Regions from separate parts of the Homo sapiens genome. Here region 2 is linked to region 1. The links come from fine-mapping of genetic effects on gene expression. Tissue or cell type: whole blood. Region 1 holds a variant in brackets; the other region holds the start of a gene. All regions are shown on one strand. Distances are from middle to middle.

Region 1 (2,629 bases):
TACTTGACTTATATTCGTGATACTCTAGTGTACATTTCTGTTACCATCACCTTGCAGCCCATCTAGGTCCTTTAATTGTGTGCTGCCTCTGTCATGCTCTCCTGCACATGATCCTGAACTCAGTATGGCTTCTGTCACCTGCAGTGGGTACTCCCAGGAGTTCAGGCAGTGCTTCATACACAGCAGGAGCTTAATTACTGCTTGTTCATTGACTGGCTTGTTGCATGGATAATTATCTTTGTGAGGCATTGTCACGGAAGCTCAACAATCAGACACATAACATGATGACCTTGTACATCTTTCTTTCTAGAATACAGCATCCTCAAAAGCCCTGACCCCATAGGGTCTCTTCTGCTCCTTAAATAAATCTGGCCAGTTCAAGATCTATGCAGGACACATGAAAGGCCAGCAGCAGTCAATGGTCAGAGTCCCTGGTGTTCATCTGGACTGTTTCTGAACCCCGTCATTTCCTGCTGCCTCTACTCACTAAACTCCTTGACTCTGCAACTCAACTCCCAGTACCTGCCTTGGACCCCCAGGCTCTTTCTGAATATATTTGCCTGGTTTTTAAGCTTCTCACTTGCTTTAAGATGTGGTCTGTTCACACTTCTCTCCAGGAGGAAACCAGCCTGGCCAGCAGCACAGTCTCAGGGGAAAGGGATCCTGCAGGATGTGACCAAGTGAGTGCCTTGGCTCTCCTTCACAAGATGGAATAGCCCCTAGTGTCTAGTTCTCTGCTGTCCCAGTGTGAACAGGGCTGAAGGACACTGCCAGCTCACCAGGAAGTCAGACCCTCTACAGCAGTGTTCAAACAGACATGTGTTTGTTGATGGCCCACAAGTGCCCTTCGGCTGCTATAGAGAATAAAAATGCAGGGTATGGAGAGGATACATAAATTTAATTCAGGCAAGGAATTCAGACTGCATCTGCATGATATCACCGTTTTATATGAAACTCCTATGTTAGATACAGGGTAGGAAAATTGAAGAACCAGGCTTTGTGCAGTATCACCTGTTGGGGTCTCTGAGTAAGTCCTCTCCCAGTTCACCCTTGTCGCTTTCCTGGGCTCAGCCAGAGTCACAGCCCTGCTCCCCACAGCCTTGTTGAAATGTCTGGCCTGACGACTCAGGGAACCCAGCATAGTGTCTAGATTCCAACTGCCTCATTCTCAGCCCTCAGCTGCCTGAGCCCTCCCTTCAATGTGCATCCTGGGGAACACTCATCAGGACTCAGAACTTAAATAGAACATGGTTTCTGAGAGGCCTCTTCCTCTGGGAAGCCACTTCTATGAAGAAGCCAAATGGATTTCTAACAATGCGTCTTCATAAATCAAACATCATACCATGGACAAAGCTGGTCTCAACACCCCAGTTATCAGGTCAGCATGTGCTCTGGGTGATTTTTCTACTTAGAGATGGGCTTGCTTTGCACCATCTACTCTCCCTTCAGCCCACTCCCCCTGGTGGCCAACTGGCCAGAGGTAAAGGT[A/G]TGAGATGCAGGGAGAAAGTTTTTTCTCTGCAATTGAGTAAAGCCCAGGCCCTGGCCCCCACCCACGTGCAGAACCTGCCAGCCAGTTCACAGCCGGACAGTCCAGGCTTTCAGAGGAGGGCTGTTTCTTCTTCCCCTGAGTCACCATTATCATTCCTTCCTCTTGCTTTGGAAGATGGGCCTGGGCCGGCGAGAGTCTAGAAATGCAGTCAACCCAGAGAGGGGAGAAAAGGAAACAAGTGACAGCTTGAAAATCAGGTGGAGGGAATCTCGATGCTAATAACATCACTTACATAACACTTTCTAGATTACAAATACTTGGAATGTGGCCTTTTGTGAACAACCTAACCCCTCCACCCATTCATGTCTGATCTGTAAATTGGAAGATATTATTTAACAGCCTTGCTCTTATCATGGTTGTTAGACATCATTTTCAAAACAAAATATAGAACAAGAACAAATTTCCATATCCTCTCCAGACTAGGAACTGTTCTATAGAGACTCCTGTGCCGTCATCCACTGTGCCAATTCCCAAAGCAGATGCTGATGTGCAAGAAAGGTGAGAATTGCTGCAGCAACTAGGAATAAACATCAAAGTTCTCCAGCTCTTTGCGGCTCAATCGAGCAGGGTTCTGGGCTTTAGGTTGACTCTTTCCAATCTGCAAAAGAAAAGGAGAAACTTCAGACCCTTGCACTGGGAGGTCCTTATCACAATCCTGTGAGGTATGACTTGCCATCCCCATTTTACAGATTTAAAAAATGAAGCTCAGAGTGACAAAACAAATTACTCAGGATCCACGACTAGTGTGAAGTGCAGGAGGGACTTGAATCTAGTTCTTCTGGCTCCAATTCCAGTACTCTCTTAACCACATATGCTTTTTCATGACCTCACAAGCTACCTGGGTCTACACAGTGCCCTCTATGACCCTGGGTTGTCCAGTTGGCTTTAATGTTGGGTGATAGCTGAAGTGCCAGGAATTCCAGCAGGCAGCCACCCATCCCTCCCTTCTGACCAATGGCAGCATCTTTATTGGACCACAGGTGGGGAGGCTCAGGTGTAGTATGAGGCTAATGGGTAGTGGGGGAGGTTGGGGGATGCTCTCCATGCCTTAATTTCTCTGAGTATAAATGGAAAGTATAA
Region 2 (2,611 bases), 35 kb before region 1:
TCAATATTGTGCAACATCAGATCATGACCAGCCTCTAAAGATGCTTTCCATGGACATAAGCCTGTTATCTTAATGGTTTCTCTCTCTCTCTCCCTTCTTCCTTTGAACCCAGACTTCCTGGGTTCAAGTCCTTACTAACTATAAAACTTATAGTAAGCTATTTAACCCCTCTCCACCTCAGTTTTCTCATTTATAGAATGGGGATGATAAAAGATATCTCATAAAACTATTGTAAGATCAAATGAGTGAATATGTTAAAGTGTCAGAAGATGGACTAGCACTCTGTAAGCTTTCATCGAATATTAGCTAAAACTACACATTCTGCCAGCCTCAAGTTTTCCTGCCAAGTCCCCTTAATGTTACAGCCTAAGTAAACAAATGACCTGAAGCCCGAAACACAAACCATAGCATGGCCAGCTATTACGCTACTGACAAGAAGAAGGAGGAGAAAAAGACAGTTTCCCAAGTCAGGATATAGGGAATCATGCCATTCTCCAGCCTACCTTTTCAACTCAGTCACCTCTACGCTGTCACATACGATGTCCACCCCCATTGCAGTCTCCCTGATGCCTTTGTCCATATTAAAAGTCCTTCATTGCATGTGACAGAAAGCTAGCACAAACTGCCTTGAGCAAAATAGAAAATGTATTGGGTCACTGTATTAGTTATCTGTTGCTGTGTAACAAATTGCCCCAAACTTCACAGCTAAAAACAATAAGCATTTTTGATGAAAAATAAAAAATTGAAAAAAAATTTAAAAACCAAACATTTATTATCTCACAGTTTCTCTTGATAAGGAATCTGGGCATGGCTTAGCTGGGTGCCTCTGGCTTAAGGTACTCACACAACTAACATCACGGTGTCAGCCAGGGCTGCAGTCATTTCAAGGACCTCCTGGGGAGGATCCACTTCCAGTCTCACTCATGTGATTCTTGGCTAGCCTCAGTCCTCATGGACAGTTGGCCAGAGGAATCAGCTCCTCGCCGATTGTTGGCTGGGGGCCTCCCTCTGTTCTTTGTTTTGGAACCCTCTCCCTAAAGTATCTCACAAAACAATACCTGGCTCCCCTCAGTGTAAGGTAGGGAGACAGAGATAGTGGGAAAGACAGAGAGGGAGAGAGGGCAAGAGAAAGAGAGAGCGCATATGCACACACATGCTAACCCAAGATGGAAGTCACAGCTTTTTTGTAACCTAATCTCAGAAGTGACCCATCCCACATCTCTGCCACATTCTATTCACTTGAAGCAAGTCACTAAATCCAGGCCACACTAAAGAAGAGGTGATTACACAGAGGCATGAATGCCAGGAGGTACAGATCTTTAGCAGTCACCTTTAGGAGCCAAATTTAGAACCCAAGTCCCTTGATGTCAAAGCAAGTGATGCTCCACATCAGTCACAAATGAGGCCCTGAATAGACTTGGGACCTCTACCTGCCTGCGCAGATGGGAGGAGTCTGTGGTGTTTTGTATAAACAACCCTCCCTCTGAGACACACACACATACACATACACATGCACACACACACTCATATACACATGCAGAAGCTGTGACACGTGCGGAAGCTGTGGTAAGTGCATCCTCCTTCAGTCTCAGTTCTGAAAATAGATCATCATGGTGGCACCAAAGAGTCACACAGATGACTGGGCTCCTGGGCCTTTCTCCAGTAAGCCACAGAGGAGTCAGCTGCAAATATTCTCTTCTGTTCTACAGACCTCTCTCCTCTTCCTGCTCATGGGTAAGTCCACTTTATGGCCACCACTTCTTGCTACTGCGGTTCTTCTGAGGCCAGTTGCATTCCCTGCCTGGGAGATTCTTTTTTTTGTTTTTTGTTTTTTTTAACGGAGTCTCACTCTGTTGCCAGGCTGGAGTGAAGTGGCGCAATCTCGGCTCACTGCAACCTCCACCTCCTGGGTTCAAGCGATTCTCCTACCTCAGCCTCTTGAGTAGCTGGGATTACAGGTGCATGCCAACACACCCAGCTAATCTTTGTATTTTTAGTAGGGGCAGGGTTTCACTATGTTGGCCACGGTGGTCTCGATCTCTTGACCTCGTGATCTGCCCAGCTCAGCCACCTGAAGTGCTGGGATTACAGGCGTGAGCCCAGTTCTTGTTGGTAAAATCGGGAAACTCATCTCCTTGCCAGAAATTACTTTGCATGTGTGCATATTCGTGCACTATGAAGGGGGTAACATTCTAGCCCCGGTCTCAAATAGCTCTGGGCTCAAACTACATTTCTCTTGCCCTCACATTTTCCTAAGAAATGCCAAGTATATAATGAGTTTGTTCCCTGTATGGTGTGGATAAAACCCACAGAGGGATCCAGGAAAATCCCCTGATGAGAAGCCACCTAGCAATTTCCTAGGGATGGAGAGAACTTCTGGAGCTTCTTTCTATGTATCCTGCCTTGGTTATCATATATGCTGGCTTTATTACTGAGGTTTCACTGGGGACCTGGACGCGGTTAGGTGACCATGGGCAAGGTGGCGTTTATCTGGATATCCTTTTCTCCTCAACCTTATTCCTCCCTATCAAGGCCCAACTCCTGGGAAACATCTCTCCGCTGCATGGCCCGGAACCCCACTGTCCAGCAGATAGAGCCAATCCAGTACCCC

What was found. PIP is the estimated chance that this variant, and not a neighbour inherited with it, causes the effect.
Region 2: LY9 starts here. The variant in region 1 is fine-mapped to the expression of LY9 in whole blood (TOPMed, PIP above 0.99).

Annotation. Positions count from the first base shown.
Region 1 is chr1:160,829,281-160,831,909 of GRCh38, forward strand. CD244 (CD244 molecule) reads right to left here. Exons shown (of 9, transcript NM_016382.4): 9 at 880-2,147. The coding sequence ends at 2,067. Among named protein-coding and RNA genes, the nearest start is that of CD244, 32 kb to the right of the region's middle. The variant A/G (reference allele first, on the strand shown) is at 1,489.
Region 2 is chr1:160,794,578-160,797,188 of GRCh38, forward strand. It overlaps LY9 (lymphocyte antigen 9), which reads left to right and starts at 1,597. Exons shown (of 10, transcript NM_002348.4): 1 at 1,597-1,734. The coding sequence starts at 1,611.